3 linked regions of the Homo sapiens genome follow. The protein of the gene in region 3 purifies or fractionates together with the protein of the main gene of each other region. This does not show direct contact. Each region holds a gene or a part of one and is shown on either strand. Other genes may lie near its edges.

The links.
Region 1: the proteins of RETREG1 (region 3) and MAP1LC3B2 purify together in Homo sapiens (affinity purification with mass spectrometry; 3 studies listed by BioGRID and IntAct, with this or other methods). This does not show direct contact.
Region 2: the proteins of RETREG1 (region 3) and USP24 purify together in Homo sapiens (affinity purification with mass spectrometry, with the first as the bait; one study listed by BioGRID). This does not show direct contact.

What each region holds. Positions count from the first base shown.
Region 1 is NC_000012.12:116,558,138-116,562,285, reverse strand, and holds the start of MAP1LC3B2 (microtubule-associated protein 1 light chain 3 beta 2), read right to left. Parts: upstream 2,906-4,148; 5' UTR 2,853-2,905; intron 1-2,852. UniProt on the Homo sapiens protein: Ubiquitin-like modifier involved in formation of autophagosomal vacuoles (autophagosomes).
Region 2 is NC_000001.11:55,093,213-55,096,864, forward strand, and holds part of USP24 (ubiquitin carboxyl-terminal hydrolase 24), read right to left. Parts: intron 3,411-3,652; coding exon 3,286-3,410; intron 2,185-3,285; coding exon 2,043-2,184; intron 876-2,042; coding exon 725-875; intron 1-724. UniProt on the Homo sapiens protein: Ubiquitin-specific protease that regulates cell survival in various contexts through modulating the protein stability of some of its substrates including DDB2, MCL1 or TP53.
Region 3 is NC_000005.10:16,473,881-16,477,532, forward strand, and holds part of RETREG1 (reticulophagy regulator 1), read right to left. Parts: intron 1,355-3,652; coding exon 861-1,354; 3' UTR 1-860. UniProt on the Homo sapiens protein: Endoplasmic reticulum (ER)-anchored autophagy regulator which mediates ER delivery into lysosomes through sequestration into autophagosomes.

The sequences.
Region 1 (4,148 bases), on a different chromosome or scaffold from region 3:
TTTCAGGCACAGGTGGATCCAGGGATACAAATATTGTTGTCAGGACTCTCCCACTATCTTTTATCTCTGCTTTCTGGGGTTTTGGCATCGGTCTCAGGCAGCCTCTCCCTAGGTAGCAGCAGAGATGCTCCACGCTCATATCCCACCACATAGTGGAACCAAGAGAAAGTGAATTTCTTTTCCCTACGAGTTTCGGCAACTATTTGCTCTGATGGACCCACTTTGGATCACATTCCCATCCCTGAACTGAGCTGAGTCTGACTGGTCAGGTCTGGGTGATATACCCTCTCCTGGAATGAGGGGGTGGAAGAGAGATGGTCTCCCGAAGGCAAGCCAGGATGCTGAAGCAAAAGATAGTGTCATAGATGCTGACAGGGAAAAACAATAGCCTTACTACACTTGTGTAAAGCACTGGACAATAAGAAGCACAGAGTCCAGCCTCGTTCAAGAACAGCTTTGCATGTACTTGCTCCATCCTTACAACAACTGTGTAAGGGAAGTTTTCTAATTATCTCCATTGGACAGATGAGGAGACAGAGGCCCAGGGAGGGTAAATACCTTACCCCAGGCCACACAGCTAGTAAGGGGCAGAACCAGGATCCAGCTGCCTCAGTGAATGGCTAATGGCTGCTGGTTAATGAGGTCACACTCCTGGCCTGTGGCCAAGACTTATCTACAACCAGGGACCCTCGACTCCTCCCTTAGTCTCGGGAGTCCTCAAGGCCCCATCCTGCTTCCTGATCGTTATGAAGTCTGGGGAAAGGGAAACTCGGTGTCCACGCAAACAAGATGCTGTGAATGTTTTCAGCCCAGACAAGGGGAAGGAGATGGCCAGGGGAGGACCTGGTAAACAGAAGCCTGGGGTGGCTCTGTTAGTTTCTTATGAGTGCCCTAATATCCTTGGTTTGTAGCTGCAAAACTCCAATCCTCACTTCCAAGTTCCTCTGGGACTTCCTCTCTGTGTGTCTAATCTACCCATCTACCTCTGCCACACTTTTTTTTTTTTATTTTGAGACAGGGTCTCACTTGGTCACCCAGGCTGGAGTACAGTGGTGCCATCATAGCTCACTGCAGCCTCGAACTTCTGGGCTCAAGAGATCCTCCTGTCTCAGCCTCACAAGTAGCTGGGACCACAGGCACACACCACTGTCCCCCACAGCTTTTTTTCTGAGATGGAGTCGTGCTCTGTTGCCCAAGCTGGAGTACAGTGGCACAATCTCAGCTCACTGCAACCTCTGCTTCCCGGATTCAAGTGATTCTTGTGTCTCAGCCTCCCAAGTAGCGGGGACTACAGGCATACACTACCATGCCCAGCTAATTTTTGTAGTTTTAGTAGAGATGGGGTTAAGCCATATTGGGCAAGCTGGTCTTGAACTCCTGGCCTCAAGTGACCTGCCCACCTTGGACTCCCAAGGTGCTGGGATTAGAGGTGTAAGCCACTATGCCCAGCCTTTTTTTTTTTTTAAACTATTTGTAGAAACAGGGTCTCCCTATGTTGCCCAAGCTGGATCTGCCTTCCTTTTATAAGGATACCTGTCATTGGATTTGAGGTCCACCCAGGTAGTCTAGGATGATTCAATCTTGAGATCCTAAAATTAATTTACACCTGCAAAGATCCTTTCTCCATTAAGGTCACATTCACAGGTGCTGCAGCACATTAGACTGTGGACATATCTTTTCTTTTTTTGGTGGAGGTGTGACTGGGGAGACACTATTAAACCCACTACAGTGTAAAAGTAGGCCAGATGTGATGGTTCACACCTGTAATCCCAAGACTTTGGGAGGCCGAGGTGGGCGGATCACTTGAGGTCAGGAGTTCGAGACCAGCCTGGCCAACATGGCGAAACCTCGTCTCTACTAAAAATACAAAAATTAGCTGGGCGTGGTGGCGCACCTGTAATCCCAGCTAGTCGGAAGGCTGAGGCAGGAGAATCACTTGAACCCAGGAGGCAGAGGTTGCAGCGAGCCGAGAGCGCGCCACTGCATTCCAGCCTGGGCGACAGAGGAAGACTCTATCTAAATATATATATATACATATACATACATATATATATATATATATATATATATATATATATATATATATATATATATATAGCCAAACTTAGCTTTATTTCAGAGCCGTTGCTGGGCCTGGGAGTGGAGAGAGATCAGGAGAGCGCCACCAGCTTGGATCGGTTAGTGAGCTGCGGTGGTTTTTGTTTTTGTTTTTTTTTTCTTGACAGTGTCTCCTATTGTTTTGTATTTCTCTTTTGTTTTGAGGTTTTCTGCCATCTTTTCTGGAAGGTGCATGATGCTCAGCTCTGTGGTTATTTTTGCCCAACAGCTGTGTTTCCGGTGAGCGGCTGTGGGATTCTTCTGACTCAGCAAAACTGGAGCAGTAACCGTCAAGAAGCCATTCAAGCAAGGCTAGAAATAAAGAAGCTGTTTCTTCACCGTCCCCTCCTCCTCCTCTCACTTCCCTCCCCATGGGTACCTTTTGAAAGTCTCACAAAGCACTTTGAAAAAACTACTTGGACCAGTATGCTGGAGGGTTGACTGAAGGTGGCCCCTCCGCTGGGCTTTAAGCAAACAGATAAATTCTGGAAAGGACTCTGCCCTGCCAGCCTGGCTGTGGCCTTCGGAAGGCCCCTCCCAACATGCCCCCACCCGCCGATCACATGGACTGTGTCTTACAAGTTTCCCACAGGTCTGACTAGTGAAAGCAGAGGCTGTGGGGACTTTTGTGGTTTTTCTAGGGTGTGGCCCCACTTTGCCTTCACCAGGCCTGAGTATCTATGCCGTGCAGCTTGCCTGCTTCTCAAAGGTCATGATTTCCACCCTGGGGCTGGGAGGCAGCTACATATTCCTACCCGCTGGCACAGGATCTGGCCCTGCACTCCCGAGAGGTGGCTGCGAGCCTTGCGGAGGCAGAGAGAGAACAAAATGGAAAGGAATCTTCCTCCCGGAGAGCCATCTTCTGTGCATGCCGGTGCCTGCAAAAGACAGGCGAGGCGAGACAGCTGCACCTCGGGCCTCGTCGCTGTTGCTGAGAAAGAAAGGAACAAATAAATTTAGCTCCATCCTACGCATCCTTTGCAGCTGCTGATTGACCAAACAGAAAGAGGCCTCTATTTCAACCCTGGCTTCTCAGCTTTTTGCCTGATGGGGTCTGCTATCGCCCTTTACAAGGGACTTTTGAAGGAGGAAACGGGCCGTGGCCTTATTTAGCGCCTGGCCGGCTGGAGGCTGCACAGACAGGAGTTCAAGTTTAGGGTGTCTCTTCTTGCCCATCCCAAAGCAAAATGGTGGCCCGGAAACGTTTCCAAATGGGCTTCGGCTCCTGGAATTTCCAATGTATTTATTTGGAAGCCAGAACATGGTGGGTGGAGAGATGTGTAACTGTGCCGAGGCCAGCCTATAGCTCCCGAAGCCATTAGTTTAATAGCACCATTTGTGGAAATAAAGAACTCGCTGACTGGGCTTGAAGGTAAAAGACTGGAACGAAGCACTGAGGGGGTTTCGTGGGGCTCACTAGCGTGGAGAGGTCCCTGCGGGATGGGGGACAAGCTGTGTGGACTTTGAGTCAGATAGACTTGGGTTCCAGTCCTAGCTCTATCACCTAAAGGCACGTTGTCTCTGGACAAAGAGAGCCTTTGCTCTGTGATATGTAAGTGAAATGCTAGCTGTGACACTGAACCTCTCTGAGCCTCAGTTCCTTATCTGTAAAACAGCAATGATGACACGAGGTCGTCACAAGGATTAAATGACAAAGAATACTGAACCTACATAGCCCAGCTCTTGCTGTGCCATGATGGTGTAGAGTGGCCCCTGTTTGACCTGCCCAGGCCCATTCTCCAAAGAAGCTGTACAGGTGAGGTGGCTCACCCCTGTAATCCCAGTACTTTGGGAGGCCGAGAAGGGAGGATCACTTGAGCCCAGGAGTTTGAGGCCAGCCTGGGCAACATAGAGAGACCCCATCTCTGCAAAAAAATAAAAAAAATTAGCTGGGTGTGGCGGTGCACGCCTGTGGTCCCAGCTACACAGGAGGCTAAGGTGGGAGGATCCCTTGAGCCCAAGAGGTCCAGGCTGCAGCCTGGGTGACAGAGCAAGACCCTGTCTCTAAAAAAAAAAAAAAAAAAAAAAAATAGAAGGTGTTTCTTCCCCAA
Region 2 (3,652 bases), on a different chromosome or scaffold from region 3:
ATAAACAGAGCTCTCCCAAGCACAACCAACTCCATGCTTCCTTTATGTCAGATGGCTTAATTCTCTTTCTTTCTTAATGTAAGACTCGATATTTTTCTCAAATTCTCTTGTTCTAGCTACTGAGCTTTTGATTAATTAGTGTATAAAGTCTGGACTGAGTAGACAGTTCTGAATTTAGATCCTTGTCCTGTGACACTGGCACATACTTCTTCTTTTCTGAACCTGTTTTTCCATCCAAAAAATGAGAATAAAACCTGATACTGCATAATAATCTTTTACAAATTAAAGATGTGCTTAAAGCACGTAGCACACAGTAGGTGTTCAATAAATAATGGCCAATGATTGTTTTATTAGTCCCACTCAAAGGTTATGAACCTTAACTTGTTTTTCTCTCCAGACAAAATAAGTTTATTTCAGCAACACGATTTCTTTACTGCCCACTCCCCACAACTCTGTTTATTTGTGACATTTCACACTCACAGAGCAGGTCAGTGATTGTGCCTGCCAATCATGAGTGTGTATTCATACTTGTGTTCTTAGCACTCCATGGCTCTAGCTCTATGGCCCCCTCTGTGTCGTGGCATAAAAGGTTCATGAGACAAGTGTGTAAGACGATGTAGCCCCAGTGGTACAACTAATCCAGCAGAAGTACTTCTGGACCTACTAGATACATTTTGATGTCCACGTGGATATTCCCCCTTAGAATTTTTTATATGGTTCTTACCTGGTATATTCGAGCAGGCATTTTCTCCACAAACAGTCCTTTCTTCTCGCCTTTTTTAACCAGCTTGGTAAGAATAGACAGCCGGTCATTGTTCGGCCTATGGGGCCGAGGGGATGACTGAGGTGAAATTTCTGGTGAAGATGGAGCTGACCTAAGAGATAGAATCAGAAAACTCTGTCTAGTATAAAGTGGCTATTTTTTCAGTAGTTACTAAGACTTGCCAAATTCACATAAACGGGTATTAGACTATTTGATTATTATACATGTATCGAAACATAAAACTGTACCACATAAATATATACAATCATAATGTAACAATTAAGAAATTAAAAATGCAATACTTTCTAATTAGTTGGGAGAACTGATTGACATTATAGAAGATAAAATAGTGCAGGGCAAATTTAACACAAATTTTTACTTAAGTGGCATATGAGATTTAACATTTAAGCACAAAATGAATTCTTCCTTCATATTATTGTGAGATATCTTTCCCAGCCATTAAAAAAGCAGTGAAATAAACTTATCTTAGAGCCACACACTCAAAGTCGTGTAAGAACAAAGTATTGAACCAAGTTTTCAAATTTAATAAAACACATATAGTCATATTTCTCACATGAAAAAGTAAACACTTTCCTGACCCAATATATTAAAAGGCAAATTCACTGACAATAGGACCTTTAAAAAACAACAACATTCTGACAGTGTTGGCATAGCATTATGCTTTGGACAAAAAGTGTATTCAACAAATGCTGCTAACATTAAAAAAAAAAAAAAAAAAAAGTCCAGGTATGGTGACTTATGCCTATAATCCCAGCACTTTGGGAGGCCTAGATGGGAGTATTGCTTGAGCCCAGGAGTTCCAGACCAGCCTGGGCAACATTGGGAGACCTTATCTTTACAAAAAACAGACAAACCAAATATCTGGGCCTGGTGCCCCTCGCCTGTGGTCCCAGCTATTCAAGAGGCTGAGGTGGAAGGATCGCTTCAGCCTGGGAGGTCGAGGCTGCAGTGAGCTATGATCATGCCACTGCACTCCAGCCTGGGTGACAGAGTGAGACCACACTGTCTCAAAAAAACAAAAAACAAAACACTTCAATTCTAGAATGAAATAACTTACGTGCATGTTTCTAAATATGTAACAACTTCTTGCCAAGAAAATAACCATGAAGCAATAAGGGATTTATTTTCTTTTTGGAATTCTTTTTAGAATTTCTCTCCAGCTTAGCTAATTATCTTTAAAATCTCAAATAGTATATTGTCACAGACCACATCATCACCATAGAAATCACACAGCAAATTACATGGAAGAGACACTTACAGAGAGAGATCCTCAGCTTCCTGCCGTACAACGCTGACTCGACTTTTCTTTGGTAATACTGGGGAGTTCTGATCAGACACCCTTTGGTAGAAAAGCATATAGGCATTCCAGTATCTTCGGCGCACATCAGTGTATGGGTTTGCTTTATAACAAGACATTAAGAAACACATCTGTAAATAAAAGTTTTTCTTGTCTTGACAATCTAAAACAAAGGGCCCATTATTCCAGCAAGTAGTTAACTACTCCCTAAGTTTGTAAAATGCAAAGTATAAGTAAAATGTGAGTGTCTTTAGAGTACTGCTTAGCATGGAAGTCAGGATACTTCAGTTGTGGGCCTAGCTGGATCTCTCACTTGGAAGTGATATAGGTGGGGACAAGGAATAAGGGAGCAGTATGGTAATGGAGTAAGAGAAAGAAGGTAAGTATCCTAGGGAGGTCTAAATGTAAGCAAATAGCAAGTGACATTTAAAAATATGTTCTGTGGCACAAGATGGGATAACTGGCCTCACTTAACCATTTCTGCCAAGATCGGCCAAATCCAGGCAAATTCTGACAATACTATATCCAACTCTTAAAGGTTACCACCATAAGATGCTTAACTATAATGGCATGGTATCAAAATCTAATACAGTGAATCCAATACAGCTAAAAATTTAGAAATACCACTAGAAGATTTCAAAATCAGGTTTCTGAAATGCTAAGGTCTCCACCAAATAGCTTTTTATCAAATAGCAAGTTCTGATTGGGCTGTACTTCTCCTCATACTCTTTTTTCCTGGGAGTGGGGATTGTAGAGGGAAAGACTGCTTTGCCACACTGCATAATAAATATGGTTTTAAAAACACAGGTGCTAGAAATGTCTTCTCTAATTAGTCACACCTCTACATAAGTGAAAAGGAAATCTGAAAATTTTAATGGATAACTACTTCCAAAACTATTTTTAAGGTTCAATTTCAGTATTCATTACTTTCTCTCTGATGCTCATTTCATCCTTTTAACTTACTCCCAGCTCCCCTACCTATCCCTCAAGGTTGTTGTAAGAAATTATTTAAAAAAATTTTTATAAACAGCTTGAACATTTTCACTTTGGTTATTAAAGAGCTTGCTCATGGTTCTATTGCTAGAACAGTAGTACAATAAAAATAACAAAATCTGTTGTGTTTTTATATAAAGAATACTATTAATTTTTATAGAAAACGATAAATAAAAAAACTAATGGAAAATATCCATTTGTAAATACTTACTTTGATCATAAACTTTTGGTCTATATTCTCCTCCAAAGCATTCATACTCCAGGGTCTCGTCATTTAGGTCAAATTCTTCTATAACTGTGTCATTAAATTTATACCACTTTCCTTTTCCACACCCTCTAGAACCCAGAGATCAGACAAACATTATAAGGTTAAAAAAATCAACCTCCTCATCCTTAGCATTGATCTCAATGTATTGTCTACAAATAAAGCAGGTGTTTACCATTTGAAAATATCTAAGAAATATGTAGCAACAATTATTTCAATTTCTAAAACAACTTTTCAAATTGAAGGGGTAAAACCAGTTGCACGAAGCTTTAAAACTTCAAAATGAAACACAGTCAAGAACAATGCCAAAGTG
Region 3 (3,652 bases):
TTCATGACATAATATAAAAGATAAGGGTCTAACTTAAGTCTGAGCAGGCAGAATAGAGCTGTGCTCCCAACATCCCTATCACAAACATATGACGAATGAACAACAAAACAACTGAATCTGTTTACATCATAACCATTGTCTATGTGATACACAACTGCTTGCTTTCTATGGGTTAATACCACCCACTGCAAGACTAGAGATGGCAGTCAATGGAGCATGCTTCTTTACAAATAAGCCTAAGTCTACAACTGCAGAAATAACATGGAAACGTTTCAGTCTATCCAGAGTACTTAAATATACTTTTAAATTTTTTCCTAAGAAATTAATTTTGATAGTATTTCCCAAGTCCTTCAACTAAGATACCTTGATAATTTCGGTCTTTTTTACATCAAAATCTATCCGTTGAAAAAAAAATTTTCCAGGTATTAGGAATAAGGAAGCTGGTAACAGCATGTATTCACAATTAATTGTTAATATTTTTCAGTAAGTTACAATAAACTGTTTTGCATGCTTGAAAAACTGTAAAGAAAAAGAATATTTATAGGAGGATTTTAATAGTTTGGTTTTTGTTTTTTTCTTTTTGCTTTAAAAACAACCCCTAATATTTATCTCTGACAACACAGTGGTGTGTATAAAGTTCATTTCCATGCTTATTACACAAAAATAACGATCAGAAATATCAATCTATCAGTGTCAGCTGATATATATCCAATTAATTCACTGCAGGAGGGAAAATAAAACAAATCTAAAGTAATCATTAAAGCTTACAGTTCAATTTTTTTCTTTTCCTTTTTTTTTTTTTTTTCTTGTTTGAAATTTTTTTGGTGTTTTTTGTGCTCTGTTGCAAGCTGATTCCTAGATTAATGGCCTCCCAGCAGATTTGAAAGGAAACCTGAAGACTTCTTATTTTGCTGTGCTTCTGCTTCCTGGTCTTGTGTAAGTCCCAATTCACTCTCAATTTGATCCAGCTCTGACTGGTCAAGTAGTTCAAAGTCATCACCTTCTTCAGTGTCTGTGTCCTCTTCTGGGATGGGGGCAGCCTGAGAAAGTGCTTGCTGCACACCCTCTAACTGGTCTTTGATAGCTGCAGTCACTGCAGCTGTGATAACATCCCCAGCCAGGTTGCTCATCAGGTGAAAGGTTTGGTCACTGTTCAGAGGAAGGGTGAGACCAGCTGCTGATTGCGTCTCTTTGCTTGGTCTGTGACCACTGTCCAACTGTTCCTTCTTTCTCTTGAGCTCAGTGGGCAAACCAAGGCTTAATTCATCTTCATCATTTGTTCCCATGCCATTTTCTAGAGATGGAAAATCTGAAAGATCTCTAGAGAAAACTTCCTCACTGGGTCGGTCAAGATCTGTGAAATGGATAACAGAAGTTCAGACTGAAGCACCATAACAAATTTCAAATAAAAGTGCTGTCTAAAGATATCTGACTTTAATCTGAACCCTCTGGCAACCTTGGCATTCATCTAGCCTCCTGGGTCAACTTGAATCAATTTAACCACATACTGAACTCCTCCTAATCCTGCAACACTCTTTCTCCACAGGGACACAAATACTACACATCCCTCTCCATATTTAGCTTTCCTCTTAAGCACAAAACAGTGTATTTACTGACTTAACATTCACCTTTGTCTGATATTAGCTTGAGGTTTTGACTAAAGTTTAAGCATTTACTATAAAAATTCCCCATCCTGCGCCTAGGGTGGGAATTATCTTAAGCCAATGAGTACACATGTACATGAAATTTAAAATACTATAATAAGTTTCCTTGGGTTTTGGTTAATATTATCCAGCCTCAGCATTTTCATACATAGAGATCTATTTCAGTGCCTGTAATCTGTGTTTGTTTTAAGCAATGAAAGGAAGATACTGCTCCTTCTATTCCATATAACCCAAGAGTTTATGGAAACATTTGGCTCTCTATAACTATAGCTGAAACTGACCATACCAAGATTTAGGACATTTGAAAGCAATGTCACATTAGAAGGCTAATAGATTTTATTGTTTTTACCTTTCATATAAAATCTTTTAATATAACAGTTAACTCCCTGCAACAGTGATTTGAAATCTTCAATTAATGAAAAGCCTTGTATGTGGCTTGGATTATTATTGTCTCTTTTGTTGAATCTGAGATGGGATGCTTAAGAACAAGGTACTTGTTATTCTTGTTCTTTAAAATATGACCTCAAATTGTAGGTACTGAAAGCTTGTAGAGCTTGAATGACCTTCAGCAATGCTCCTGTTCTAATTTAAAGGTGAGGAAATTGAGATCCACAAAAATTATGTCACCCGTTCAAGGTCATAAAGTTAGGTAGTGACAAAGGCAAGACTCCACTTGGGTCTTCCACCTTCCAAACCCATCTTCTTTCAAACACTGCACAGCCTCCCTCCCTCCTTCCTTTAAAAACAGAAAATGTCCTTTTGGAACATAAGTGTAAAATAGTTCATTCACCCTCCTCCTTTATAATCTGCTCATATGTTCAGTATATGGCCAAAACAAGGTAATCCAGTGAGACTAACAAAAGTTAAGTTACTGTACAAGCATTGACTCTCAATTTAAGTTTTGGACATAATTTGCATTATAAAGAATACTGTGCTTTCCTGTTTTTAATTGTACTTATTATAAACAAAGAATATACTGGATAAAGAAAATGTGGTACACATACACCATGGAATACTATGCAGCCATAAAAAGGAACGAGATCATGTCCTTTGCAAGGACATGGATGGAGCTGGAAGCCATTATCCTCGGCAAACTAACACAGGAACAGAAAACCAAACACACTGCCTGTTCTCACCTGTAAGTGGAAGCTGAATAATGAGAACACATAGACACAATGGTGGGGAACAGCACACACTGGGGCCTGTCAATAGGGTTGGGGGTGGGAGGAGGGAGAGCATCAAGAAAAATAGCTAATCGATGCTGGGCTTAATACCTAGGTGATGGGATGCAAACCACCATGGCACATGTTGACCTATGTAACAGACTTGCACATCCTGCACATGTACCCCTGAACTTAAAAGTCAGAAACAAAAAAAATAAAAATAAAAAGCTTTTTTAACTTTGAAGACAAATGTGAGAAACTCCGGAGTCAGCTTTGGACTCAGGGAACTTGACGTCCATACTTCAGCCCCTTTTAATGAGGACTAGGCCTAAATGTGTAGGATTAGCGTCTATCTTTCTCTCCCACATTATCGCTTGGGACATTTCAAAGACATTTCAGGAGGTAATTTTTCTAATTTTTGATTATTTTGTTTTCAAAATAAAGGCAAATTTGGACATTGACTGATTTATTTTCCTCATACTTTTTAAAAAACAGCTTTTGATAATTCATGCACCAAAAAAACACCCTTCTAAGGTATACAATTCAGTGTTTTTTAGTATATTCATAAAGCTGTACAAGCAGCATCACTATCTAATTCTAGGACACTTTCATCACTCCAAAAAGAAATGCATACCAATTAACAGTCACTCACTATTCCCTCCATCAGTCCATAGCAGCCACTAACTTAATTTCCCTTTATATGGACCTGCTTATTCTAGGCATTTCATATAAATGGAATTACACAGTATGTGGCATTTTGTGTCTGGCTTCTTAGCATGTTTTCAAGGTTCATCCATGTTGTAGCAAGTATCAGGACTTCATTTT